7 linked regions of the Homo sapiens genome follow. The protein of the gene in region 6 purifies or fractionates together with the protein of the main gene of each other region. This does not show direct contact. Each region holds a gene or a part of one and is shown on either strand. Other genes may lie near its edges. The genes, in order: GLDC, USP16, GTF2I, SRRT, CRYBG1, SOST and ISG20.

Region 1 (4,288 bases), on a different chromosome or scaffold from region 6:
GGGATCACATTTCACCCTGAGATCTGGAGGGGACAAGTATTAAATCTGTATTAGTCATATTATTAGCCTGGCAAGGAATGAGGATCAAGCCATGTATTGATTATATATTCTGGATATTAAATCCTTATCAGATATATGACTTACATATATTTTCTTCCATTCTGTGGGTAGTCAGTCTCTTAACTTTCTTGATAATGTTCTTTGATGCACACACATTTCAAATTTTATAGAAATTTAATTTATCTAATTTTTATATATGTTTATTGTTTATTCCTTTGGTGTCACATTTAAGAAACCATTGCCAGATCCAAGGTTATGCAGATTAGCCCCTATATTTTCTTTTTTTTTTTTAAGATGGAGTCTTGCTCTGTCGCCCAGGGTGGCGTGCAGTGGCATGATCTCAGCTCACTGCAAACTCCACCTCCCAGGTTCACGCCATTCTCCTGCCTCAGCCTCCCGAGTAGCTGCGACTACAGGCACCCGCCAACACGACCGGCTAATTTTGTATTTTTTAGTAGAGACGGGGTTTCACCATGTGAGCCAGGATGGCCTCGATCTCCTGACCTTGTGATCCACCCACCTCGGCCTCCCAAAGTGCTGGGATTACAGGTGTGAGCCACCGCGCCTGGCCTATTTTCTTCTAAGTTTTAGTAGTTTTAGCTTTTAAATTTACATCTTTGGCCAGGCTCAGTGGCCCATGACTGTAATCCCAGCACTTTGGGAAGCCAAGGCAGGCAGATTGCTTGAGCCCAGGAGTTTGTGACCAGCCTGGGCGGCATGGTGAAACATCGTCTCTAGAAAAATACAAAAATCAGCCAGGTGTGGTGGCATGCACCTGTAGCCCCAGCTACTCAGGAGACTGAGGTAGGAGGATTGAGCCCAGTAGGGCCAAGGCTACAGTGAGTTGAGATCGTGCCACTGCACTCTAGCCTGGGTGCTAGAGAAAGACCCTGCCTCCAAAAATATTAAATAAATAAATAAATAAATAAATAAGTAAAATTATATATTTGATCCATTTTGAGTGCTTTGTGGCCCAGCCACCCAGAAGCCTGGATGTCCACATGTGGCTCCAGGCACAGTTCTGGCCCTATCATCTCTGTGTTTCTCCTTCAGGAACTGGTTGCTGAAAGCATGGGAGAGGAGTGCAGAGGTATTCCAGGGTCTGTGTTCAAGAGGACCAGCCCGTTCCTCACCCATCAAGTGTTCAACAGGTTTGTGTGTCTTGTGTGACTTCTGCGTTTTGTGCTTTGGTAATCAGCTAGGGAGTTAGGCAGAGTGCTGCTGCTGATTTCGCCTGCTGTGGCCTGGTTATTCTGGCTCAGCCGTGGCTCCCAAGTATTTCATCCTCATAACGATCCCGTTCCTGACTTGGGAAAAGCACACTTTGTTTCCTGGTGGCTCTGCTCCCTTGGCAGTCAGGAAGCAGGGATGAATAATTGCCAGGCTGAAGTTCACTCCCAAGAGCCCTATATCCTCTTCTTCCCAACCTTCAACTCATACCCACAGTCAGCTTCTTGTCCAAGACATCCTCTGAGGTTTGTGGGGGTCTGTGCCCTTCTCTCTGAGTGTAGTTGACATATTGTCCGTGGCCAAAATTGATCTGCATTTTGAAAGTAGATTTCGGTGTGTCTTATATGTCAGGAGGATGTGCATGGACTCATATCTACTTTTGGGGCCCCTAATTCTGTGTTTTGTGTTCACAGCTACCACTCTGAAACAAACATTGTCCGGTACATGAAGAAACTGGAAAATAAAGACATTTCCCTTGTTCACAGCATGATTCCACTGGTAGTTATTTGTGGCCTTTTTTCTCATTTCCAAGCTACCCCAATCCCACGTCTCTTGGTCCTACCTAATATGCTCCAAGAGCAACAAAGGGGTGGCCATGCTGGGAGAATGGAGGGTTGATTGATGGACTATAGAAAATCACTAATGTGATACATTTTGGATGTTCTTCTTAAAGGGATCCTGCACCATGAAACTGAACAGTTCGTCTGAACTCGCAGTAAGTAGCTCACTTCTGTAAGTGGATACTCAGCAAGGGGCAGTGTTCTAGCTTCCACCTAAGCCCAGAACTAGTGAAATCTACTGGGACTGTGATTCTGTGATTGAAGAACTATTTTAATAATTCTTTACCTTGCTATTCACCAATCTTGGGAGTAACCCTGTATTTCTCACGACTTCATCATTTAAATGTATGGGTAAACTTATTATTTTTTAATAAAATTAATTAAATGTATATGGTATTTATGCCTTTCTATCCTATCCCTCCCCCACCCCCACCCCCTTTTAAACCTGTCATATTAAAAGCTTTTTTAAAAAAAATTGTTTATAGTTCTAAATCTCAGGTAGAATTACGAACCTTAAGCCGTCTTTCTAGAAATCATTCCTGTATCAGAAAGATAGGGATTCAAGTCAACAGAAGATTTGTGCAACTCGCTGTTGTGGTTGGCAAGTATCTCTACTAGGCCAGGATCCATTTTAGCGAAGCTTTTTTTTTCTTTCTTTCATTTCTTACGTTTATTCTGAAGTGACATATCATATCAGACGAAAGAAATCATTTTATATCATGATAAGAATATTTCCCTCTCTATTTTTTTAAAAAATAGAGTCAAGGTCTTGCTGTGTTTGCCAGTCTGATCTCAGACTCCTGGCCTCAAGCAGTCCTCCCACCTCAGCCTCCCAGAGTTCTGGAATTATAGGTGTGAACCACTGTACCTGGCCTTCCCATTTACTTTTGTGTTTGTTTCTTGTTCCACTTAGTGAAGAAAGAGAACAATCTATTGCTATATAAGAGTTTATGCCAACCATACCTGAAGCAACTCATTGTGTTTCATGGAAAGAAATCTGTTTTGGGGGCTTTTCTTCCCTGAAAAGTTAGCAAAACATTGTATTTTTGTGTAAGTTCCCTTTTTGGACAACTATGTCCCACTTTTAAATGAAGACAGTAACGGTACTTACCTTATAAGGTTGTGGTGGAACTTAAATAAATTAACATATGTATAGCGCTTAGAACAGTGCCTGGCACATAGCTTTTCTCATCATCGTCATTATTATTAAAGTTATTATTGCTATTGCTATTATAATATGTATATATGCATTTTTGTTTTCTTTCTTTTCAGCCTATCACATGGAAAGAATTTGCAAACATCCACCCCTTTGTGCCTCTGGATCAAGCTCAAGGATATCAGCAGCTTTTCCGAGAGCTTGAGAAGGATTTGTGTGAACTCACAGGTTATGACCAGGTCTGTTTCCAGCCAAACAGGTAAGGGCATTTCTTTTCTTATTGTTTCAGCAATCTATTCTTGTATAGCATACACCACAAAACTTAAAGGCTTAGAACAACAACTTTTTTGTGTTATTCTGTGACTTGCTAGACAGTTCCACTCCACTGGGGAGAGCATGGCTAGAAGGTGCATCGTGTTCTCCCTCACATAGCTGGTGAGGAGCTGTGGGCTGGGAGTGCATTTGAGGATGTTCACTAGGGCCATAGTTTTTCTCCATATGGGGCTTTCCTTGTAGTTCCTTGAGCTTCCTTGTTCCTTACAGCACAATGTCGGGGTTCAGAATGCGTGTTCCCAGATGAAGCATGGAGAAGCTGCAAATCTCTAATGGCCGAACCTCCTAAGTTACACTGCATCCCTTCCAGATTAGTCTATCTATTAAAGCAAGTCACGAGGCGAGCCCAGATTGAATCGGGGAGGGGACAACACCTGGGTGTGAATTTTGGTAGATGTCGTTCATTGCGGACTGTCTTTGGAAGCTAGCTTACTACACCTGTCAGTGACACAGCATAAGAAGAAGGATCAAGCACACATGCTGAATTCCAACAAGTGTCTCAGTTTAGCAGGGCCAGGAGAACCTGGATCCTGCTTTGGTAATGTCACTAACTTTGAAAGGTCCCTTCTCCTCTTCCAGCCTCAATTTCTTTGTAAAGGAAAGACTTTGAAGAAGAACAGTGATTTTCAAAAGCAACAGCCTCCAGCAAAATCTCCTGAGCACTTGTTAAAAATACAAACTCCGGGCCCCGCTCCAGACGCACTGATCATAACCTCCAGGGGGTGAGACTAAGACTCTTTATTTTTATTTTTATTTATTTATTTGTTTTTTTAGATGGAGTTTTGCTCTTGTTGCCCAGGCTGGAGTGCAATGGCGTGATCTCGGCTCACCGCAACCTCTGCCTCCTGCATTCAAGAGATTCTCCTGCCTCAGCCTCCCGAGTAGCTGGGATTACAGGCATGTGCTACCACACCTGGCTAATTTTGTATTTTTAGTAGAGATGGGGTTT
Region 2 (4,288 bases), on a different chromosome or scaffold from region 6:
AATATGGGATTTTAGAAAACTCTTTGAACTTACTTTAGAAGGTATTACCTGAAAGTACAGTATGGATAAAAGGATACTAGTAACATAGATCATGTTCTCTGGAGAACCAGTTCTGAGATGTGTGTATAGGTGGTGGAGTGTTCTCTGGTACCACACCAGTAAAAGTAAGGGAAGCAAGATTAAGCATAGGGAGAAGTTGAATGAAGAGGCAGTGGCAACAGGGTCTCAGCCAATCCCACAGTGATCTCTTGCCTGAATTGAGGCAAGGAGCTAGACCTTTCTACCTGTGCATAGACCAGTCATTGGATGTGGCCTGCCCCTAGAGCAGGAAGTAACCTTGGGCAAGGCAGCTCCCTTTTGTTGAGACTGATTCCTGGGGATGGATGGACTAGACTGTGAGCTCTCAGCCGGCCACATTCTCAGCACCTGGGGGAATGAGTAGTACCTTGATCTTTGGCAGTGAGGGCATGTCTGGCTGGCACATCACAGTATCTACTCTACCAGCTCACAGTTATTACCGTGGTACTAAAGTCAGGGTCTCTCAGTTACCCTTAGTGGTGGCAAGTTAAGCTTATATGTTAGGAAATTGGGCTACTAGGCAGTAGTCATGAAGTCATGAGGCTTCAAGATCAGGCAGATAGCCAGTTTTTTGTTGTTTTTTTGAGATGGGGTCTCACTCTGTCACCCAGGCTGGAGTGCAGTGGCACAATCTTGGCTCATGGCAGCCTCCACCTCCCAGGTTCAAGCAGTTTTCCTGCCTCAGTCTCCAAGTAGCTGGAATTACAGGTGTGTGCCACCACGCCTGGCTGAGTTTTGTATTTTTAGTAGAGACAGGGTTTTGCCATGTTGGCCAGGCTGGTCTCAAACTCCTGATTTCAAGTGATCCACTCACCTTGGCTCCCTCAAAGTGCTAGGAATACAGGCGTGAGCCACTGCGCCCAGCCAGGATTTTTTGTTTTTTCACGTTTTCAAATTGAAAATCTTATTGAGGTTATTATAGATCATGTGCAGATCTAACAGATAATACAGAGAAATCCCTATGCATTTTTCTCAGAGTCCCCCAGTGGTAACATTTTACAAAATGAGTATAATATCACAACCAGGATATTGAGATTGAAACAACACACCAATCGCAATCAGATCTCCTGAGTTTGACTTCTTTTTTTGTGCATGTGTGTATGTGTACATGTGTATTACATTCTGTACACTTTTGTCACCTGTGTAGATTATTCACCACCACAGTCACGATACTAAATAGTTGAACATCACAGGGATCTCTTGTGTTGCCCTTGTATAATCATACCCACCTCCCTACTGCCACCACTCTCTGCAGCCCCTGGCAACTACCATTCTATTCTGTATTTCTAAATTTAGTCATTTCATCAAAAATGTTATGTAAATGGAGTCATACAGTGTGCAACATTTGGGGATTGGCTTTTGCTTTTTTCTTTTTTTGAGGCAGGGTCTCACTCTCTCACCCAGGCTGGAGTTCAGCGGTATAATCACGGCTCACGGCAGCCTTCACCTCCCAGGCTCAAGTGATCCTCCCACCTCAGCCTCCTGAGTAGCTGGGACTACACCTGCATGCCACCACTCCTGGCTAATTTTTGTATTTTTTCTAAAGATGCGGTTTTGGTATACTGCCCAGGCTGGTCTTGAACTCCTGGGCTCAAGTGATCTACCCCCCTGGGCCTCCCAAAGTGCTAAGATGATAGGTGTGAGCCACCGTGCCCAGCCAGGATTGGCTTTTTCACTCAGCATAATCACCCAAAGATTTATCAAAGCTGTGTGTATCAAGTTTGCTCTTTTTTTATTACTGAGCGTATTTTATGGCATATAGTACAACAGCTTGTTTTTACTGTTTACCTGTCGAATGACAACATCTGGGCTGATCCCATTTTTTGGTGATTACAAATAAAGCTGCTGTTAACATTTGTGTACAGGTTTTTGTGTGAACTTAGATTTCATTTCTCTAGGATAAATGCCCAAGAGTGCAATTGCTGGGTCCTATGGCAATTTAATGTTTAGTTTTTTAAGAAACTGCCAAACTGCCAAACTGTTTTTTCACAGTGACTCTACCTTTTATATTCTTACTAGCAGTGTATGAATGATTCACTTTCACTTTTTCTTCATTTTTGCCAGCATTTACAATTGTCACAGTTTTTTATTTTAGCCATCATGATAGTTATATACTGATATCTCATTGTGGTCAGTTAAAAAAATCTGTATGTTAGAAAAGATACTGTTTACTTGTATTTGAAAGGTTTAATTGTAACCTTTTAAATACATATGGTGAGTATGAATATGCTTTGCTATTTCAGTTTTTCAGAATATATTTTGTGTTACAAATTTTTGTGCTACCTTTTTAATTTGTAAGAATAAGACATGTCAGTATTAACTGCTAACTTTTTTCCCACTAGATACCTTTGGCACTGTTAGCTAATGATTCTTAACTGTTGTCTCAAGACAACTATGTTTCAAATGATCTCAAATGATGTTGTAATTTTCAAAAATAGTATCAAATGTTAATTCATTTATTTTGTAATTAAATGTTCAGTGGGATAAATTAAGCGAATAGTGTTTGGGATCATAGTTAAGGAATTAGAAATTACCAATGTATATTTCTTCTCCAAAGTATATATTTAGCGGCAATGGAAACACGACCGGTTGTTGTACTGTGATCCAAAAGTTGATAGACTGGTTCCAGTAGATACACAGTGAAGATATGTTTCTCAGCAGTGATCTGACTAGCTGAAAGCAGAAGTTTAGGTCATGTTCTTTTATGAATAAGCCTATACATCTTTTAGGTAAAAGTCTCCCATTTACTTGTTTAAATAGTGTTTTTTGACCACCTCCTGTGTTCTAGAATATTTGGTAATAGATTAAGTCTACTGCCTTGAGCCTTTGGGATTTATAGACCAGGTGAGAAAGGATATAAATATCAATAACGTTAGTACAAGGTAAAAAATAAGGAATGCCACTAGGAATTCATGCCATGTTTTATAGAATTTGTTTAAAGGAAGGAGACAGTATTTTCTCATCTGGGAGATAAGTATAGGCTTCTGGGAGGAGGTGGCTTTTGAGCAAGATCTTGAAGAGTGGGTGGGATTTGGTTAGGTAGCAGTGTTCATAAAGGATTCTGGATAAATAGAATAATGTGAACAAAATTGCATAGTTGTGAAAAGCGCTCAGTGTGTTTTTAGCTGGTCGTTGGTATGTGAATAAGAGAATGTGGGAGTTAACACTGGAGAGATATGTCGGGGTCAGAGGATGTCAGGTTTGTTTATTAGGAGTTTAAGAGTGCAATTCATAATTTTTGAATGGTGTATGAACAGAGCTTTGTTTTAGGAACACTAAACTGAAAGAATATGCATGTGAAGAAGGAGGCTGAAGTTAGGGGAATGTTTAGGAGACTGTTAAGGAATCCAAACCAGACTTGACTGCATTAGTGTGGTTTAATCTGGGCTGGAAAGTTGGACAAGAAGAGTACTTTGAGTGCATGGTTTTCTTTTTTTTTTTTTTTTTATTTTGAGATGGAGTTTTTGCTCTTGTTGCCCAGGCTAGAGTGCAGGCCCAGACGTGATCTTGGCTCACTGCAACCTCCGCCTCCTGAGTTCAAGCAGTTCTCCTGCCTCAGCCTCCTAATTAGCTGGGATTACAGATGTGCGCCACCACACCCGGCTAATTTTTGTATTTTTAGTAGAGATGGGGTTTCACCATGTTGGTCAGGCTGGTCTCGAACTCCTGACCTCAGGTGATCCCACCCCTGGCCTCAGCCTCCCAAAGTGCTGGGATTACAGGTGTGAGCCACCGCGCCTAGCGAGTGCATGGTTTTCTAAATACTTGTTGACTTAAATGTTCTCAGTTGCCTGTGCATATGTAAGTTTTAACAAAATATTGATTCTAGAGTCTAACATTTTCTTTTCAAGATTGTAAGAATGGCAGAATTTCATGAGCCACTTCCTTGTTTATGATAGATTATGCATTCTCCCCTCTTGCTGAGTTTTTATGGCTTTGAGGTTTATGATTATGATTTTTTTAGGGCTGTGGCAGAAATTCTCAGGAGCAGCATGCCTTGAAGCACTATCTGACGCCAAGATCTGAACCTCACTGTCTGGTTCTTAGTTTGGACAACTGGAGTGTATGGTGAGTTTCAGTTCCTCTGCCTCTTGGGTGGAAATTATTTGAAATATTAGAGAATGGAAATGTTTAAATATGTTTAAGAAGAAAGCAATTTAAAATTTTTGTAGTATGTTTTAAAATACCATCACTTTCACAAAGCTAAAGA
Region 3 (4,288 bases), on a different chromosome or scaffold from region 6:
TTATTTATTTTTGAGACAGAGTCTCGCTTTTGTCACCCAGGCTGGAGTGCAGTGGCGTGATCTTGGCTCACTGCAACCTTCGCCTCCTGGGTTCAAGCGATTCTCCTGCCTCAGTCTCCTAAGTAGCTGGGACTATAGGCACCCGCCACCATGCCCGGCTAATTTTGTATTTTTAGTAGAGACGGGGTTTCACCGTGTTGGCCAGGTTGGTCTCAAACTCCTGACCTCAGGTGATCTGCCCGCCTTGGCCTCCGAAAGTGCTGGGCCACCGCACCCAGCCAAGGATGTGTGTATCCTGTAAAAATTGTGTGGGTACGTCATCGGAAGAGGTGAAGGTATTGTCTTGATAATTCTTCATTCTCCATTCTTGCCCTGTCGTCCTTTACTGTTGTCCTTTTGTTCTGGAACTCTCCCTGCTGTCTTCCTGTTTGTTTTCTCCTCTGTAAAATTCTTGTTTTGGTATTCCATGCCTGTTTCTGGCAGTACTCATTTGCTTTTTACCACTTTGGCCTACTGAGAAAGTAAGAGAAAGTTCAGTATAGCCAGGAACTGTCAGAGTTGTTGGAGGATTGACTCATTCTCCTTTGGTTGTAACTTGTTTCTGTTTTTGTTTTTTTGAGAAGGAGTCTCCCTCTGTCGCACAGGCTAAAGTGCAATGGCGCGATCTCGGCTCACTGCAACTCTCGCCTCCCAGGTTCAAGCGATTCTCCTGCCTCAGTCTCCTGAGTAGCTGGGATTACAGGTGTGTGCCACCATGCCCGGCTAATTTTTGTATTTTTAGTAGATACAGGTTTCACCATGTTGGCCAGGCTGGTCTCAAACTGCTGACCTCAAATGATCCACCTGCCTCAGCCTCCCAAAGTGCTGGGATTACAGGCATGAGCCACCACGCCTGGCCAACACTCTATGTAGGATTTTTAAAGAACTAGTTACTTAAAAAATATATCATGAGAGGGAAGACAAATTTATAAATTGAGAGAGGGTTTATAGCTTATGGCTAGCGACACAAGTTTGAAGTCTGACTGCCTGGATTCCAGTCCTGGCCCTTGCCGTTTCCTGCCTGTGCGACCTTGGGCATTTCACTTCATCTTTGTATGTTTCCCTATTTTTTGTTTTTTTTTTTTGAGACAGAGTTTTGCTCTTGTTGCCCAGGCTGGAGTGTAGTGGCGCGCCTGGCTCACCGCAATCTCCGCCTACTGGGTTCAAGCGATTTTCCTGCCTCAGCCTCCTGAGTAGCTGGGATTACAGGTATGTGCCACCACCACGCCTGGCTAATTTTGTATTTTTAGTAGAGACGGGGTTTCTCCATTTTGGTCAGGCTGGTCTCGAACTCCTGACCTCAGGTGATCCACCCGCCTCGGCCTCCCAAAGTGCTGGGATTACAGGTGTGAGCCAACAGTGCCCGGCCTATTTTTTATTTTTATTTTTATTTTTTGAGACAGTGTCTTGCTCTGTTACCCAGGCTGGAATGCAGTGGCATGATCTCAGCTCACTACAACCCCTGCCTCTCGGGTTCGAGTGATTCTTGTGCCTCAGCCTCCCGAGTAGCTGGAATTATAGGCATGCGCCACCACACCTGGCTAATTTTTGTATTTTTAGCAGAGACAGGGTTTCACCATGTTGGCCAGGCTGGTCTCCAACTCTTGACCTCAGATGGTCCGCCCACCTCAGCCTCTCAAAGGCTGGGATTACAGGCCTGAGCCACCACGCCTGGCCCCTATTTTTAAAAATGGAGTTGATAATAGAACATGTTTCGCTTCTAAGAGCTGTTGCAAGGATAGAGTTTAAGTGCTTAGGTTGCTGTCTGGCATGTAGTAGACACTCAAGAAATATTAGTCATAAAAGTACTATTATAAAGACTTTTGGGAAATTGAGGAAGCGAAAATTTTACTAGTAATATCGACTATGACGTTAATCTCCAAGAACTCTGGAGAATATGAATTGCAAGGGCAAGGACTTATTCCTCTGTGGGATTTTCCCCTGTGACTGTTACATTGTTTTTATGTTTTGTTTTGTTGAGATGGAGTCTCCCTCTGTCACCCAGGCTGGAGTGCAGTGGCGGGATCCCAGCTCATTGCAACCTTCACCTCTGCCTCCCGGGTTCAAGTGATTCTCCTGTCTTAGCTTCCCAAGTAGCTGGGACTACAGGCGTGCGCCACCATGCCCAGCTAATTTTTGTATTTTTTAGTAGAGAAGGGGTTTTACTATATGTTGGCCAGGCTGGTCTGGAACCCCTGACCTCAGGTGATCTGCCCATCTCAGCCTCCCAAAGTGCTGGGATTACAGACGTGATCCACCGCGCCTGGCCAGAGCTTGACAGTTGGATTGATGAAACCTGAGAATGTATGCTTTATATGTTGTTCATTTTAATTTGTTATATCTAGAAATTTAGCTCTTACTGTTGACTATAACACATACATGACGTGAGTAGAATTTTATCTAGATTGAGTTTTCAGACCGTAATTGGTTTCAAGAAAATAAATAAGGTATTGGAAGTGAACTAAAATTAGTAACTGGCTTTGGCATTAGACTTTAATGCACTTAAATTACATGATCTCATCTGTGAGATAATTTGACAGAGGAGGACGATGGCATGTATTATGTCCATATGAGGAAAGGGCAGAGAAATAGACCCTGCAAGATTCATTAGTGTTACTCCTTCCTCCTGTTCGTTTTCTTTCTTCGTTTTCCCCCCCGGTAAGCATTAAAAAAAATTTTTTTTGGCTGGGTGTGGTGGCTCACTCCTGTACTCCCAGCACTTTGGGAGGCCATGACTCACTTGAGGTCAGGAGTTTGAGACCAGCCTGGCCAACATGGTGAAACCCCGTCTCTACTAAAAATACAAAAAATTGGCCGGGCACGGTGGCTCACACCTGTAATCCCAGCACTTTGGGAGTCCAAGGCGGGTGGATCACGAGGTCAGGAGATCGAGACCATCATGGCTAACATGGTGAAACCCTGTCTCTACTAAAAATACAAAAAAAAAAAAAAAAAAATTAGCCAGGCGTGATGGCGGGTGCCTGTAGTCCCAGCTACTCAGGAGGCTGAGGCAGGAGAATGGTGTGAAACCGGCAGGCGGAGCTTGCAGTGAGCTGAGATCGCACCACTGCACTCCAGCCTGGGTGACAGTGTGACACTCTGTCTCAAAAAACAAAAACAAATTAGCTAGGCGTGGTGGTGCGCACCTGTAATCCCAGACACTCGGGAGGCTGAGGCAGGAGAATCACTTGAACCCTGGAGGCGGAGGTTGCAGTGAGCCAAGATCACGCCATTCCACTCCAGCCTGGGCCATAGAACAAGACTATGTCTCAAGGAAAACAAACAAACAAAAAAACACATCTCTACTGAAAATACAGAAGTTAGCTGGGAGTGGTGACAGGTGCCTGTAATGCCAGCTGCTTGAGTGGCTGAGGCATGAGAATCACTTGAACCCGGGAGGTGGAGGTTACAGTGTACCGAGATCTTGCCACTGCTCTCCAGCCTAGGCGACAGAGCAAGACACCATCTCAAAAAAAAGAAAATCCTGTAAGATGAATTTGTTCCTTTATGAAGAATAAATTTGTGTCTGCCATTTACACCGTGAATGCCTTTCTTTGGAGTGGTTCCTTGTAGTGTTTTTTGTTGTTGTCGTTGTTGTTAAATTGTGGTAACATATACTTAACACAAAAATTACCATTTTAACCTTTTTTTGTGGGGGGAGGGACGGGATGTCACTCTGTTGCCCAGGCTGGAGTGCAGTGGTATGCTTTTGGCTCACTGTAACCTTCGTGTCCTAGGGTCAAGACATCCTCCCACCTCAGTCTCCCGAGTAGCTGGGACTACAGGTGCATGCCACCACGTCTGGCTTGATTTTTTTATTTTTTGTGGAGATGGGGGTCTCACTATGTTGCCCAGGCTGGTCTCCAACTCCTGAGCTCAAACAATCTGCCTGCATCTGCCTCCCAAAGTGCTGGGATTAGAGACATGAGCTACCACACCCAGCCTGATTTTACCAAAAGAAACTTTTTTTTTTTTTTTTGAGACAGAGTCTTGCTTTGTTGTCAGGCTGGAGTTCAGGGGCATGATCTCGGCTCATGGCAACCTCCATCTCCCGGGTTCAAGTGATTCTTCTGCCTCAGCCTCTCAAGTAGCTGGGACTACAGGTGCGCACCACCACGCCCAGCTAATTTTTGTATTTTTAGTAGAGATGGGGTTTCACCATGTTAGCCAGGATGGTCTCAGTCTCCTGACCTCATGATCCACTTGCCTCGGCCTCCCAAAGTGCTGGGATTACAGGCGTGAGCCACCG
Region 4 (4,288 bases), on a different chromosome or scaffold from region 6:
GGCTTTTTAGTCTGGTATCTCAGGGTGTAAGAAGGGCCTGTTTAGGAATGTGGCTGTGGCATATCCAGCTGTATCTTTAATTATTGTTACCTTTTTAAAAAATAAAAAATTTTTTGTAGGGATGGCGGGGGGCGGGGGGGGGTCTCACTATTGCCCAGGTTGGTCTCGAACTCCTGGCCTCAAGTGTTCTCTGCCTCGGCCTCAAAAGTGCTTGGATTACAGGCATGAGCCACTGTGCCTGGCCTTTAATCTTTGTTACTTGTTCTTACTGCCAGAGAGTGGGACCGTGGCCGTGAGCGCCGTAGTCGGGGTGAATATCGGGACTATGACCGGAATCGGCGAGAGCGCTTCTCGCCACCTCGCCACGAACTCAGCCCGCCACAGAAGCGCATGAGGAGAGACTGGTGAGATGGAGCGGTTTCCCTCTCCTCCCCTTTGCCTCAGTTCCACCTGGGCCTCCCCTTTCTCCCCTCACCTGTGCCTAAATCTTTGTCATTTCCTTTTCTCAACTTCCCATCACCCATCGTTACTTTGTCCCTTGAAACCCTTGTCTGGGAGACCATGCTGTGTGTACCCCCGTCTGTCCATCCTCCATGCTCTGGGGAGGTGACTCCCTTCTCTGCTTTACTTTTGTGTCCCCCACCTTCAGGGATGAGCACAGCTCTGACCCATACCACAGTGGCTATGAGATGCCCTATGCTGGGGGGGGTGGGGGCCCAACTTATGGCCCCCCTCAGCCCTGGGGCCACCCTGACGTCCACATCATGCAGCACCATGTCCTGCCTATCCAGGCCAGGTAAGGGTGGGGCTTCTCAGAAGAGGGTTGGTAGGCCTGGGGGATGGATGGGGTTGCTGAAGGCCATGGCTGAAGCCAGGGAGCGGGTCAGGCACACAGAGGCATGTCCCTGGGGTAGGGGTGGTAGCTGTTGGGGTTTGGGGTGATGTCCATGGTGGACAAAGTAAAGGGGCCCCAGCTACTTTGGCCCCTGTAGCCTCCCACCGTTCCCCAAAAACCAAGCCTTCCTGACCGGGGTCCCCTCCAGGCTGGGCAGCATTGCAGAGATTGACCTGGGTGTGCCGCCGCCCGTGATGAAGACCTTCAAGGAGTTTCTCCTCTCCCTGGATGACTCGGTGGATGAGACGGAGGCCGTCAAGCGCTATAATGACTACAAGCTGGATTTCCGGAGGCAACAGATGCAGGATTTCTTCCTGGCGCACAAAGATGAGGAGTGGTGAGTGCCCCTACTTCCCTGGACCTCTGCCCTGGCATGTCCCCCTGGCCCCGCTGGTGGAGCCACAGCCCTGTCCTCTTCCCAGTTTTCCCTGTCCAGAACTTTCTGGGGGCGGGGGTCGGGAAGTATGACAGCATTGGCTGATGGGGTCTCCCCCTCACTTCAGCAACTGCCACGGCCCCCGCCCCGCCCTGTCTCCTGTCCTGCTGTCCTCAGAGAGTGGGACACCTCCAGGCAGCAGGCCAGAGCCACTTGGCCCCTTGGGGCAGCAGACAGACTGCTTCCCACTTGTTGGTGTTGGGTCATTGTCATCCCTGATCACCAGGACCCTGTGTGGCTGTGGCGTCCTCCTAAAGCGACGAGTGAATCCAGACAAGAAAAGCAAAGATCTCGGTCGTTTGACAGAAAAAGAATTTTAATTTTTTTTTCCTTTTGTGGATGTTTTAATTTTAATCAACCATCTTTTCCCCCCTTCCTGCTCCTCCTCCTCCTCATCCTCTTTCTGCTCCTCCTCCTTGAAAAGAGCCAGAACTGGGAACTACACCCGCTCATCGACGGAGCTCGGAGCAAACCCACCTCCACCCCCACCATACCCAGCCCATACATGAGCCCCTGGGCTGAGCTGCGCGGCCCCGGCCAGGCAGACAGGCCAGGGCACTGCTGTGCACAATGCAGCGGTTTAGCTGAATGTGATTGCTCAGGCAGCTAGCCAGTCAGGCCCCACTGCGGAGTCCCGCGTGGGCATCTCGGCCGGGCGCCCAGCCAGGAGCCAGCCGGTGGCCCACCAGCCAGCATGGGCCCTGGGCGCCGCTAGTTAAATCTTGAGCTCTGTTTGACCAAGCGGCCAAGGTAAAGATCCTGGAGGTGATGCCTGCGGCTTTCCTTTCCTCTTCTGCCCCACTCGTGGTTCTGTTCTGTCTTCGCTGTCCCCTCTCTCGAATTGCTCTGTGTCTTTGTCCTAATCTCTCAGCACCTTCATTCTTCTCTGTTTCTGTTCTTGCTCCCTGCCTAACACCACCTTCTTCCCTGTTGGTTTTTTTAGTTTCTCTCTCTGATCTTTAGTTTTTCCCTTTGTTTTCGGTTTCTGGGACTTTCTCACACTCTCCCCTTTCCTCCCTTTCCCCTTTTCCTCATACTCCTCATTTCTTCTGTTTTCCCTCTGAGGTCCTATTTGAAATGTTTTATTTTTCTTCTCCCTAACCTTCCAGCCCTCTCCTCTCTCTCCCCCTGTGGGCAGGACCTGAGGCTCTAAAGGGCACTCCAGTGTCTCCCTTCGGTCTTTCCTGTCCCTTCACCGTCTTGCTTATCTTCCCACGGGTGGAGAAAGGTGCCCTGCCTCTGGGCTTTTGCTATCTGGCCCTCTGTCTTCCACCTCGGGGTGGAGGGAGTTGGCGGGAGCAGTTTTTGAATGACTGCAGTTTGGGGTTGGTGAGGAGAGGGAGGTTCTTCAGGGCCTGCTATTTCCTGAGCCTTCCTCTCTGAAGCTTTGGGAAATGACACCTTTTTACTACGTTAGTGTTTCCCAGAGATTTAAAGTGGTAAATCTGCCTCTCCTACCCTGGCGTCCCCCTGTAGTCATTGGTCTTCCCAAATCCAGAGCTCTTAGTTCCTGGTTCTCCCCCAAATCTTCACAGAACACAACTTCTGGTTCCTTTTGGGGTGTTGGGTGGTTCTAGCGCACCCCTATCCCTTAATCTCTCTATTTTGATGACCTTTTGTGGTTGTGAGAGGAAGGGGGATATGCCCTGTCTTTCCTGGGCCCCTTCCCACATCCTGGCCTTGGCTTCCAATAACTGTTTTGTCTTTCCCTCCCCCGCTTCGTTCCCAGGTTTCGGTCTAAGTACCACCCAGATGAGGTGGGGAAGCGTCGGCAGGAGGCCCGGGGGGCCCTGCAAAACCGACTGAGGGTCTTCCTGTCCCTCATGGAGACTGGCTGGTTTGATAACCTTCTCCTGGACATAGACAAAGCTGATGCCATTGTCAAGATGCTGGATGCAGGTGTGCGGATTTGGAGGGGTGGCAGGCATCTGGGCCCCATGGGGGTGGGGGTGTCTGGGGATCAGGTAGAAGCCGGTTGACAGGAGCCAGGGCCCTGGGGTCATGACCTCTGTTCCCTTTGTTGGTAGCCGTGATTAAGATGGAAGGAGGCACGGAGAATGATCTTCGCATCCTGGAGCAGGAGGAGGAGGAGGAGCAGGCAGGAAAGCCTGGGGAGCCCAGCAAGAAAGAAGAAGGACGGGCTGGAGCAGGCCTAGGGGACGGGGAGCGCAAAACCAACGACAAGGATGAGAAGAAGGAAGACGGCAAGCAGGTCCGAGCCCTGGGTCTCCTAGTGTTGTCCCTGGCAGCCTGGGGGAGGGGGGCGGGTAGGGGTCCATAGGAGCTAGAAGTAGGGGGCTGGGGAAAATGAACCTGTGGCCTCAGCTGTGGGGGTGGGGGCCCTCTGATAAAGGTGGGAGGGGAGGTTTGACATCCCCAGTGGTTGTCTCTTACCATAGGCTGAGAATGACAGTTCTAATGATGACAAAACAAAGAAGTCGGAGGGTGATGGGGACAAGGAAGAGAAGAAAGAAGACTCCGAGAAGGAAGCCAAAAAGGTGAGGTGTCTGTGGCCTGGGGTCAGAGTGTTGGGGCTGGGGTTCTGGCACGCTGACTTGTCCCCTCTGCTGTGGCTCACACAGAGTAGCAAGAAGCGGAACCGGAAGCACAGTGGTGACGACAGCTTTGACGAGGGCAGCGTGTCAGAGTCTGAGTCGGAGTCAGAGAGCGGCCAGGCTGAGGAGGAGAAGGAGGAGGCCGGTAGGGTTTCTTTTCTGCTTTAAAGTGCGTTCTCCTAATGCGGGTGGGGAGGTGAGAGGTTGGCGACATTGACGGGAGGGTGGGTGGCTTTTAGGGGAAAGCTTCTGTATCCTCCCCACCACAATCAGTAATAAAAATGCACCAACTCCTTCCTACCCCCCTTCCTGCCTAGAAGAAGCGCTCAAGGAGAAGGAGAAGCCCAAGGAAGAAGAATGGGAGAAGCCCAAGGACGCCGCGGGGCTGGAGTGCAAGCCGCG
Region 5 (3,688 bases), on a different chromosome or scaffold from region 6:
GATAATTAATTGCTGGTCATCCTCTTGAGCCTTTCACACCTCGTTTAGTGGCTATAGTGCCCCCAAGACCTGAGGCTGTCCACCAACAGCTATACCCTGAAGCATGGCTGCAGAACACTGCAGGGAAGGCAGCCCCATGCAGGCCATGTGTGGATGCAGGTGGATAGGAGGACAAGAAATTAGGCTAAAAAATCTGAGTTTAGCAAAAAAGTATGTAACATTGCTTCAGCACTTGTAGATGAGTAAGGATGGCTCATAAATTAGGTCATAATAGTGTTCCAGTAGCAGCTATAAGAAAGGCATTAAACAACCCTCATTTGTGACATTCTAGGGCAGCCCATGGATGAGTTAAAATAATTCAAATCCTGGCTGGGCGCAGTGGCTCAGGCCTGTAATCCCAGCATTTTGGGAGGCCGAGGCGAGTGAATTGCTTGAGCCCAGAGGTTCGAGATCAGCCTGGGCAACGTGATGAAACCCCATCTCTACAAAAAAAAAACAAAATTTGGCTGGGCTTGGTGATGTGTGCCTATAGTCCCAGCTACTTGGGAGGCTGAGGTGGGAGGATCACCTGAGCCTGGGGAGGTAGAGGCTGCAGTGAGCCGTGATTGTGCCACTGCACTCCAGCCTGAGATCCTGTCTCAAAAAATAATAACTCAAATCCTACTAACAAATGTTACCAGACTTTGACATTAAATTTTTAAAATGTATTAATTTTTAATATGAACTAAAGGAAAATAGTATTTTGTTTAGAGTTCCTTAAATGTGTGAATACCTAAGGCTTTCCCATTGTGCTATGCAGCATATTTAAAGGTTCCAGAAAGTGTTTAAGGCCAAGAACCAAAATTACAGGCCTAATAAAGTATTTCTTCTCAGATGCTAAACAGTTCTCTACCTTTCAAACTTAAGCCTTTGTCTTACCCTTTAAAGTGTAAGGGCTTTGTAGGTCCACAAAGTTGGTAAATTTGTTCCAGTTCTCTCCTGTCACTATCTTTGGAAATAATTTAAAATGTACACAGTCTTGAAATCTTGATATAACATTTTACAAAATCACCCAAAAGCTGCTAATTAGGCAACCTGTTTAAGCAGCTACCAAAAATGAAAGGCAAGAAATGAAAGGAGGACAAATTATTGGTTTAAAGCTATGATAGTCTTTTGAAACGATGAGTAAGTTCTCTGAGTCATGGCAGCATGATTTAAGGTTGAATTTAGAATCAATGAAGGAGGAGTCGATCCACTTTCCAGTCTGGTCTTCCATCAGCATTGTCCTTTTTAAGAAATAAGGTGGCTGGAAGGACCTCCAGAAGATTCTTCTTCCTTCTTTGTTCAGGTATATAGGACCATGGCTTCCCACACTTGTGTAAACTTCTCTTTGCTGACAGTGTTGAGGATAATGTGATTTTGATCATACTGTGTGCCCCCTAAAAGAAAGGAAAATAATAAAAGATGAATGTACCCATGGTGAAGGGTCTATAGCAGACACAATTCCCCTAACACCAGTACAGCAAAAGTAAGCAAGTAAACAAGGTGTAGAACTGCATGCCTCAAGGAGGCAAGGCAGGGAGGGAAGCCTGGGCCCCTGTGGGATGAGAGGGTCAACCTGCCATGGGTGAATCTGTCCAGATCCCACCATTGGGGCACCAGCACCTTCACACAGGACATCCCACCTCACGGGCTCCTTTTTCTACCCAGTTCTTAAGAGCTAGTCCACAGTCACTCTTACAATGTCTGAAATTCAAGGGAACTGGGAAAACCCGAGAGAAGGGAAAAGGAGTAAAGAGACTAACATATATTTGGTGGTGAGATGGTAGATTCGAGACACCAGCGAGGAAAGAGCAGGTAGTCCTGGCAGTGGTGGAAAGGTGGGAGGAATGGTTATCGAGGAACAGCACTTGCATGAACAATGAAAACGGGCTGTATTAGGTCAAAGGGGAGGTTTGGATGACACCCGGAAGTACATAAGGGGACGCGGTAGCATTGTCACTACTGGGGACTCAGTTGGTGGATAAAATTTCATAGCATTTAGGATGCTGAGTACCACAGTATTGTAAAACTATTATCATGAACTCTCTCCCTGTTACCAGAATGTTTGTAAGATTTTCCAAAGGTGCTTACTGGATGTTTCAGATACTTTAGTGCTAAAAACAGCCTCATGGCTTCTTTCTTTGGAGAAGTATCATTAACAAAAGGGTTATCTGATTTTTTTTTTTCCAGTGTAGAATAAAGATCCCTTCAGATGGCTTATCCTTTTTTTAGCATAAACCTCAGCACCAAGGATGTATCAACAAAGACCCCATCAAAGTAAAAATCTGTGCATTTTGATGCAGGGAGTGACTGGTATTGAAAGCATGCTTCCTCCTTGGATCAAGAAGAAATAAACATTCTTTTCACCTTTGAAGCATTTACAAAATATGAAAAAGGTTTGGGAATTTACACAATAAATCTAGGTATTATAGTTGAGGAAGGAAATCGTCTCTTCTCTTGTGAGACACTGATTTATCATCATTGGTAATCTACAGCCTCTACACAGCTAGATGTATGGCTAGATGTACTATAGAATACAAGGGTAAGGTGTTTTGGGCCTTTATGTGTAAGTTTGTAGCAGTAGGGAAAAAACTACCAGCAAACCCTACACTCTGCCGAGACAGAGACACACAGCATACTCCACTGAAATTTCAGGAAGTATTAAAGTCACAATGTCTCTTTTCATTCTTCATTATAGTATGTTAAAATACTTTTTGTATTTTAAGAGTATCTTTTGTATTTTAAAAGTAAAGTATCTTAAAATACTTTCATATAAATTCAACTAGAATCATGAAAACTAGAAAGTTCTTGAGAAATAATTTGATTCATTCTCTTGCCTTTGGAGAGTGTTTAAATTGTGCAGACTTCATGTTTTTTAAAGTGAACATGAATCAGCTTCCACTGTTGTTACAAGGTATGTGGTCTGGAATAATACATGAATGTCTACCAAAAGAACTCATTTCCCAAACACAAGAAGATGAGCTAGAAGACAGATGCATGATCTAATAATTCTTAGGGCAATTTTAATAGATAACAAATGGTTCAGTAGTTGTAGCTAATGGAAATCATGGTCTGCTAGTAAGTGCACCAACGAGAAGAGACGTGTTTATATTTTCCTTTGCATGGGGTGTGGGACGTGCGGCGCTGCTCTCTCATGTCCACAAGATGGCACCATTCTCCCAGTCTGAGAAAATTAAATTCAGTTTAACAAGGAATTAAAACTGTTGTAGCTAGCCGGGCGTGGTGGCAGGCACCTGTAATCCCAGCTACTCAGGAGGCTAAGGCAGGAGAATTGCTTGAACCCAGGAGGCGGAGGTTGCAGTGAGCCGAGATCGTGTCATTGCACTCCAGCCTGGACGACAGAGTGAGACTCCGTCTCAAAAAAAAAAAAAAAAAAAAAAAAAGACTGTTGTTGCTACCGTGCTAGATACTGAGATTTCACAAATATACGGGACATTATGCTTACTCAGCAGGCACTTGAGTAATTTATATAGTGTCATTTAGGAAGGGGCTCTGGAGCTTTAAAAAGAAGTCTTAAGAAACCTAGAGTCCCACGGTTCATGTCAGAGCCAAGACAAGGAGTGAGGTGTCCTTCCTTCTGGTCCGCTGCTAATGTAACAAGTCAGGGACATCCTGTGTGCCTAGCGCATCTAGAACGTAAACTGTC
Region 6 (3,342 bases):
CCACAGCAGCTGCCCTGATTTATTACCTTCAATTAACCTCTACTCCTTTCTCCATCCCCTGTCCACCCCTCCCAAGTGGCTGGAAAAGGAATTTGGGAGAAGCCAGAGCCAGGCAGAAGGTGTGCTGAGTACTTACCCTGCCCAGGCCAGGGACCCTGCGGCACAAGTGTGGCTTAAATCATAAGAAGACCCCAGAAGAGAAATGATAATAATAATACATAACAGCCGACGCTTTCAGCTATATGTGCCAAATGGTATTTTCTGCATTGCGTGTGTAATGGATTAACTCGCAATGCTTGGGGCGGCCCATTTTGCAGACAGGAAGAAGAGAGAGGTTAAGGAACTTGCCCAAGATGACACCTGCAGTGAGCGATGGAGCCCTGGTGTTTGAACCCCAGCAGTCATTTGGCTCCGAGGGGACAGGGTGCGCAGGAGAGCTTTCCACCAGCTCTAGAGCATCTGGGACCTTCCTGCAATAGATGTTCAGGGGCAAAAGCCTCTGGAGACAGGCTTGGCAAAAGCAGGGCTGGGGTGGAGAGAGACGGGCCGGTCCAGGGCAGGGGTGGCCAGGCGGGCGGCCACCCTCACGCGCGCCTCTCTCCACAGACGTGTCCGAGTACAGCTGCCGCGAGCTGCACTTCACCCGCTACGTGACCGATGGGCCGTGCCGCAGCGCCAAGCCGGTCACCGAGCTGGTGTGCTCCGGCCAGTGCGGCCCGGCGCGCCTGCTGCCCAACGCCATCGGCCGCGGCAAGTGGTGGCGACCTAGTGGGCCCGACTTCCGCTGCATCCCCGACCGCTACCGCGCGCAGCGCGTGCAGCTGCTGTGTCCCGGTGGTGAGGCGCCGCGCGCGCGCAAGGTGCGCCTGGTGGCCTCGTGCAAGTGCAAGCGCCTCACCCGCTTCCACAACCAGTCGGAGCTCAAGGACTTCGGGACCGAGGCCGCTCGGCCGCAGAAGGGCCGGAAGCCGCGGCCCCGCGCCCGGAGCGCCAAAGCCAACCAGGCCGAGCTGGAGAACGCCTACTAGAGCCCGCCCGCGCCCCTCCCCACCGGCGGGCGCCCCGGCCCTGAACCCGCGCCCCACATTTCTGTCCTCTGCGCGTGGTTTGATTGTTTATATTTCATTGTAAATGCCTGCAACCCAGGGCAGGGGGCTGAGACCTTCCAGGCCCTGAGGAATCCCGGGCGCCGGCAAGGCCCCCCTCAGCCCGCCAGCTGAGGGGTCCCACGGGGCAGGGGAGGGAATTGAGAGTCACAGACACTGAGCCACGCAGCCCCGCCTCTGGGGCCGCCTACCTTTGCTGGTCCCACTTCAGAGGAGGCAGAAATGGAAGCATTTTCACCGCCCTGGGGTTTTAAGGGAGCGGTGTGGGAGTGGGAAAGTCCAGGGACTGGTTAAGAAAGTTGGATAAGATTCCCCCTTGCACCTCGCTGCCCATCAGAAAGCCTGAGGCGTGCCCAGAGCACAAGACTGGGGGCAACTGTAGATGTGGTTTCTAGTCCTGGCTCTGCCACTAACTTGCTGTGTAACCTTGAACTACACAATTCTCCTTCGGGACCTCAATTTCCACTTTGTAAAATGAGGGTGGAGGTGGGAATAGGATCTCGAGGAGACTATTGGCATATGATTCCAAGGACTCCAGTGCCTTTTGAATGGGCAGAGGTGAGAGAGAGAGAGAGAAAGAGAGAGAATGAATGCAGTTGCATTGATTCAGTGCCAAGGTCACTTCCAGAATTCAGAGTTGTGATGCTCTCTTCTGACAGCCAAAGATGAAAAACAAACAGAAAAAAAAAAGTAAAGAGTCTATTTATGGCTGACATATTTACGGCTGACAAACTCCTGGAAGAAGCTATGCTGCTTCCCAGCCTGGCTTCCCCGGATGTTTGGCTACCTCCACCCCTCCATCTCAAAGAAATAACATCATCCATTGGGGTAGAAAAGGAGAGGGTCCGAGGGTGGTGGGAGGGATAGAAATCACATCCGCCCCAACTTCCCAAAGAGCAGCATCCCTCCCCCGACCCATAGCCATGTTTTAAAGTCACCTTCCGAAGAGAAGTGAAAGGTTCAAGGACACTGGCCTTGCAGGCCCGAGGGAGCAGCCATCACAAACTCACAGACCAGCACATCCCTTTTGAGACACCGCCTTCTGCCCACCACTCACGGACACATTTCTGCCTAGAAAACAGCTTCTTACTGCTCTTACATGTGATGGCATATCTTACACTAAAAGAATATTATTGGGGGAAAAACTACAAGTGCTGTACATATGCTGAGAAACTGCAGAGCATAATACTGCCACCCAAAAATCTTTTTGAAAATCATTTCCAGACAACCTCTTACTTTCTGTGTAGTTTTTAATTGTTAAAAAAAAAAAGTTTTAAACAGAAGCACATGACATATGAAAGCCTGCAGGACTGGTCGTTTTTTTGGCAATTCTTCCACGTGGGACTTGTCCACAAGAATGAAAGTAGTGGTTTTTAAAGAGTTAAGTTACATATTTATTTTCTCACTTAAGTTATTTATGCAAAAGTTTTTCTTGTAGAGAATGACAATGTTAATATTGCTTTATGAATTAACAGTCTGTTCTTCCAGAGTCCAGAGACATTGTTAATAAAGACAATGAATCATGACCGAAAGGATGTGGTCTCATTTTGTCAACCACACATGACGTCATTTCTGTCAAAGTTGACACCCTTCTCTTGGTCACTAGAGCTCCAACCTTGGACACACCTTTGACTGCTCTCTGGTGGCCCTTGTGGCAATTATGTCTTCCTTTGAAAAGTCATGTTTATCCCTTCCTTTCCAAACCCAGACCGCATTTCTTCACCCAGGGCATGGTAATAACCTCAGCCTTGTATCCTTTTAGCAGCCTCCCCTCCATGCTGGCTTCCAAAATGCTGTTCTCATTGTATCACTCCCCTGCTCAAAAGCCTTCCATAGCTCCCCCTTGCCCAGGATCAAGTGCAGTTTCCCTATCTGACATGGGAGGCCTTCTCTGCTTGACTCCCACCTCCCACTCCACCAAGCTTCCTACTGACTCCAAATGGTCATGCAGATCCCTGCTTCCTTAGTTTGCCATCCACACTTAGCACCCCCAATAACTAATCCTCTTTCTTTAGGATTCACATTACTTGTCATCTCTTCCCCTAACCTTCCAGAGATGTTCCAATCTCCCATGATCCCTCTCTCCTCTGAGGTTCCAGCCCCTTTTGTCTACACCACTACTTTGGTTCCTAATTCTGTTTTCCATTTGACAGTCATTCATGGAGGACCAGCCTGGCCAAGTCCTGCTTAGTACTGGCATAGACAACACAAAGCCAAGTACAATTCAGGACCAGCT
Region 7 (4,288 bases), on a different chromosome or scaffold from region 6:
CCTCTGTAAAATGGAATTAAGAATAACCTCATTGAGGAGCTTCCTGAGGAGGTAAGGAAAGTGCCTGGCACAGTGCCAGGCTGCTAAGAGATCAATAAATGTCCCATCCCCCAGCCCCACCCCAGTTCTTTCCAGGAATTTGAGAGACTCCTCCCCCTGTGTTTGAAAGTGGCAAAGTCTGGCACACTTGCCTCATGACACTGACTCAGGGCAGGTCCTGTGGCCAGCAGGTCACACAGCCCCGAGGCCAGCCTGCCAGTGCCTTTCTCCGACTCCTGGGCTCCAGCAGGTGCCCGACTCCTTCCCTTTTCAGACCTGCCTCAGTCTGTGGAGCCCTGGCTGCTAAAGGGCCACTCAAGCCTCACCAGTCTGGGCCCTCACCTTACAAATGGGAAAACTGAAGCCCAGAGAGGGTCTTTGACATCCCTGAGGTCACACAGCAAGTTCCAGCATCTCTTCCTTCCCAGAATCTTTGTCCCAAAGAGTGGTGTCTCTTTGCTAAATAGATGGTTCTGTTCTTTCCCTTCTTCCTCTTCTTTCCTCGGCTTGTCCTCTCCCTCTTATTCTATTTGTCTCGTGGTGAGTCACATAGTGCCTCATGTAGACCCCCACTTCCCCTCTCCAGACTCTCAGGCTCGGGAAGTGATGGGTTTCCTGGGAATCCACACCATGATGACTCGTACCTTCTACGTCTGTGCCCAGCTGTGGCTGCCTCTGGGATGGTGGATGAGTTCCTTCAGGGCTTTGTGTGAACTGGGCCTGAGCCAAGCCCCTAGATGGGGAAAACAGGCCACATTGTTCAGGAGCACAAAGGATGTTAGCAAGAAAAGACACATGACCCATGGCCGCCCACACACCCACATCTCTCCACGCCCCGTGCCATTTCTGCCCGCCGCTGCGTGCTGGGTGGTTTCCTCTGCACAGAGTTTCCCTTGAGCTGCTACTCTGAGGTCGTGTGCCTGTTGTCATCTTTTAAAGCCTCAGTTTTGTCGCCATTTCCCAGGTGACCTCTAGCACACTCAAGTTTGAGAAGCGCTGGTGTGGTTCAGGAGCAGCGCCCCTTCATTCTCCAGCACACTCTCCCCAGTCCTCTAAGTCGAGCGTGAGCTCTGTCCAGAGAAGGCCTCCAACCAGACCATGTGGACCGCGGGGCAGGCTGGTGACACTGCCTGTTGACAGTGGATGGACAGACTGCTTCCCGCATAGTGACCCTGGGCAAGTCACATCTCCTCTCTGAGCCTCAGTCTCCTGTGGTTGCCAGGGGAGAACATGTAAAAGGGAACACATGATGTTCCAGGAGGCCGCTGGCTATCTAGAAGGAGAAGCAGGCTACGGGGAAGGTGTTAGGCACCAGAAGGCTCTTTCCTGGTGTACAGGCTAAGGTCGTGGGCTACATGCAGAGAAGGAGACGAAGGCTGTCCTAGAGCTGTCCAAAGTGGGCCTGGACTAGCCACGAGCCGCCCCTTTCCCTAATAGAGCTCACATCTGTTCTATTTTCAGGTCCCCTTCCCATCCTCTCCAACGGCAGCTGAGTGAAAGCAAGCTGACTGGCCTGTGTGACCAGAGCAGGGCAGGCTGTCCATGTGGGAGGCGAGGCGAGGAACGCGGGGCTGGGGCAGTCACAGCTGGGCGCCTGGGCTGCTGGAGGCCTGGAGTGGTCGTTCACTCTTCTGGCTCAGTGTGGCAGTGGCAGGCGGGCTCTGGATTCATCCCACTGGCTTCAAGGCCTGGCTTTGCCACTAACTAGCCGTGTGACTGTCCCAGTTATCAAATGGTGCTTGGCAAATCACACCAAAACTTACCGGTTCAAACAATGTCAATACTTATTTCGCTCGGCCACCTGCAGTTTGGGCAGGTGCTCTGCAGCAGGACAGGCCGTCAGTTAAGGCACCTTGAAGGCTGGGGGCTGGAACCATTGGAAGGTTTGCTCACCCACCTGTCTGGTGGCTGGTGCTGGCCTGCCTTGGACACATCACTATCTCGGTGGCTTTTCCCCGTGGTCTTTCCAGCATGGTGGCTTTGGGGTGGCCAGACATTTATTTATTTATTTATTTATTGAGACGGAGTCGTGCTCAGTCGCCCAAGCTGTAGTGCAGTGGCACGATCTCAGCTCACTTGCAATCTCCCTCCCAGGCTCAAGCAATTCTCCTGCCTCAGCCTCCCGAGTAACTGGGAATAGCCACGGCGCATGGGTAATTTTTGCATTTTTAGTAGAGACAGAGTCTCACCATGTTGGCCAGGCTGGTCTCAAACTCCTGGCCTCAGGTGATCCACCTGCCTCACCTCCCAAAGTGCTGGGATTACAGACGTGAGACACCGTGCCTGGCTGGTGGCCGGACTTCTTATAGAATTGCGGTCCCAGAGAGAAGTCAGAAGTCATACAGGCCAGCCCATATGCAATGGGAGGGGAGTTTGATTCCATCTTTTTTAAGAAGAGTGTCAAGGAATTTGCAAACTTGTTTTAAAATCATCAGAGTAAGCCTGGGCATGTCACTCCTCTGCATTTCAGATATTTCCTTTGTAAAACTCAGTTAAATGCAGTGCTCCCTCCTCACTGTTAGTTTTCTGTGGCTGCCGTAAGGAAGCCATCAACTTAGTGATTCACAGCAACACAGATGTCTTCTCTTACAGTTCTGTAGTTTCGAAGTTCAGCGTGGGTCTCACTGGTCTAAAATCAAAGTGTCAGTGGGGCTAGGTTCCTTCTGGATGCTCTGGGGAAGAATCCATTTCCTCGCCCTTTCTGGCTTCTAGAGGCTGCCTGAATACCTTAACTCACGGCCCCTCCCTCCATCTTCAAAGCCAGCAACAGCCTGTTTTCCTCATGTGGATTCACTCTGACCTCCACATGTAAGGAGGCTTGTGATTATGTTGGGACCACATGGGTAGGCCAGGTGATCTCCCCATTTGAAGGTCGACTGATTAGCAATCTAAGTTCTGCCCGGAACTTTAATTCCTCTTTGCCAGGTAATGCATTCACAGATCCTGGGGACTAGGGTGTGGACATCTTTGGGAGGTCATTATTCTGCCTGCCATAATAGAATTGTTGGGAAGATTAAACAACATAATATACATGACGTATGTTGAGGCACGCTTGGCACCTGGGAAATACTCAGGATGTACTAACCATTGCTCCTACACAGTTCAGCTCCTGAAGGAGTCCAGGTGGGCTTTTGGCACAGAATGAAACTATCAGGTGTGAGGAGGGTCCTAGTGCAATCTCTTCTTTTCAAAGATGATACATTTGAAGCCCAGGGAGGACTGATAATTTGCCCAAGGTCACACAGCCAGTCAAGGAGGGATTGCTCCCTTGCCAGCCCCAGCCCCACCCAGAAGATGCTGGGTCATGTAGGGGTGGGCACATGTCTTCCTGGCCAGATCCTGCAGCTCCTGAAAGGCAAGCTGGTGGTGGGTCATGACCTGAAGCACGACTTCCAGGCACTGAAAGAGGACATGAGCGGCTACACAATCTACGACACGTCCACTGACAGGCTGTTGTGGCGTGAGGCCAAGCTGGACCACTGCAGGCGTGTCTCCCTGCGGGTGCTGAGTGAGCGCCTCCTACACAAGAGCATCCAGGTGAGAACCTCCTCGTCCTTCTCCTCCTCCCCCCTCCTCCCCCTCCTCCCCCTCCTCCTCACCCATCTCCATTTCCTCCCCCTCCTCCCCCTCCTCCTCCCCCTCCTCCTCCCCCTCCTCCTTCTCCTCCTCCTTCTCCTCCCTCCTCCCCCTCCTCCTCCCCCTCCTCCTCCCCCTCCTCCTTCCCCTCCTCCTTCCCCTCCTCCTTCCCCTCCTCCCCCTTCCCCTCCCCCTTTGCCCTCCTCCCCTTCCTCCTCCCCCTCCCCCTCCCCCACCTCCTCGCTCTTCTCCCCTTCTTCCCCTTCCTCCTCCCCTGTCCCCTCCCTTTCCTCCTCCTCCCTCATGCCCTCGCACACCTCAGGGCAGCTTGCCTGAGGCATTGATGGTAGGTCCTGCTGTGCCTGGTCCCTGGCTGGTAGAGTGAGGATGAGGGCAGGGAAGGGAAAACACCCAACAAAGGTTTGCTTTTGTTGTTGAAATCAAGCCAGTTACCCTGTGGGAAGTGAAGCTTGCTCCCACCATAGAACTCTGGGCAATGATGTAAAGCACACACCTCACCTCAGATATGTCTCACAGCAGGGGCCGGGGAACTGGGATATTTGTACACCAGTTCCCATCAGCCACCAGCTGCTGCTGCTCCTGGGCACTGATTCCGCAGCACTTCTGGCTGGTGGGCAAAGCAGGCAGGAAAAGGCATACGGATATGGGGGGT

Evidence for each region.
Region 1: the proteins of SOST (region 6) and GLDC purify together in Homo sapiens (affinity purification with mass spectrometry; 2 studies listed by BioGRID and IntAct, with this or other methods). This does not show direct contact.
Region 2: the proteins of SOST (region 6) and USP16 purify together in Homo sapiens (affinity purification with mass spectrometry; one large-scale study listed by BioGRID and IntAct). This does not show direct contact.
Region 3: the proteins of SOST (region 6) and GTF2I purify together in Homo sapiens (affinity purification with mass spectrometry; 2 studies listed by BioGRID and IntAct, with this or other methods). This does not show direct contact.
Region 4: the proteins of SOST (region 6) and SRRT purify together in Homo sapiens (affinity purification with mass spectrometry; 2 studies listed by BioGRID and IntAct, with this or other methods). This does not show direct contact.
Region 5: the proteins of SOST (region 6) and CRYBG1 purify together in Homo sapiens (affinity purification with mass spectrometry; one large-scale study listed by BioGRID and IntAct). This does not show direct contact.
Region 7: the proteins of SOST (region 6) and ISG20 purify together in Homo sapiens (affinity purification with western blotting; one study listed by BioGRID). This does not show direct contact.

Annotation. Positions count from the first base shown.
Region 1 is NC_000009.12:6,586,118-6,590,405, reverse strand, and holds part of GLDC (glycine dehydrogenase (decarboxylating), mitochondrial precursor), read left to right. Parts: intron 1-1,113; coding exon 1,114-1,211; intron 1,212-1,703; coding exon 1,704-1,788; intron 1,789-1,963; coding exon 1,964-2,005; intron 2,006-3,122; coding exon 3,123-3,265; intron 3,266-4,288. UniProt on the Homo sapiens protein: The glycine cleavage system catalyzes the degradation of glycine.
Region 2 is NC_000021.9:29,030,795-29,035,082, forward strand, and holds part of USP16 (ubiquitin carboxyl-terminal hydrolase 16), read left to right. Parts: intron 1-4,042; coding exon 4,043-4,146; intron 4,147-4,288. UniProt on the Homo sapiens protein: Specifically deubiquitinates 'Lys-120' of histone H2A (H2AK119Ub), a specific tag for epigenetic transcriptional repression, thereby acting as a coactivator.
Region 3 is NC_000007.14:74,663,835-74,668,122, forward strand, and holds part of GTF2I (general transcription factor II-I), read left to right. Parts: intron 1-4,288. UniProt on the Homo sapiens protein: Interacts with the basal transcription machinery by coordinating the formation of a multiprotein complex at the C-FOS promoter, and linking specific signal responsive activator complexes.
Region 4 is NC_000007.14:100,881,010-100,885,297, forward strand, and holds part of SRRT (serrate RNA effector molecule homolog), read left to right. Parts: intron 1-275; coding exon 276-404; intron 405-649; coding exon 650-796; intron 797-1,043; coding exon 1,044-1,232; intron 1,233-3,060; coding exon 3,061-3,230; intron 3,231-3,358; coding exon 3,359-3,543; intron 3,544-3,730; coding exon 3,731-3,829; intron 3,830-3,913; coding exon 3,914-4,031; intron 4,032-4,203; coding exon 4,204-4,288. UniProt on the Homo sapiens protein: Acts as a mediator between the cap-binding complex (CBC) and the primary microRNAs (miRNAs) processing machinery during cell proliferation.
Region 5 is NC_000006.12:106,566,202-106,569,889, reverse strand, and holds part of CRYBG1 (beta/gamma crystallin domain-containing protein 1), read right to left. Parts: intron 1,419-3,688; coding exon 1,324-1,418; 3' UTR 1-1,323. UniProt on the Homo sapiens protein: May function as suppressor of malignant melanoma. It may exert its effects through interactions with the cytoskeleton.
Region 6 is NC_000017.11:43,753,028-43,756,369, reverse strand, and holds the end of SOST (sclerostin precursor), read left to right. Parts: intron 1-606; coding exon 607-1,028; 3' UTR 1,029-2,632; downstream 2,633-3,342. UniProt on the Homo sapiens protein: Negative regulator of bone growth that acts through inhibition of Wnt signaling and bone formation.
Region 7 is NC_000015.10:88,648,735-88,653,022, forward strand, and holds part of ISG20 (interferon-stimulated gene 20 kDa protein), read left to right. Parts: intron 1-1,500; exon of another isoform or gene 1,501-3,180; coding exon of another isoform or gene 3,181-3,375; coding exon 3,376-3,576; intron 3,577-4,288.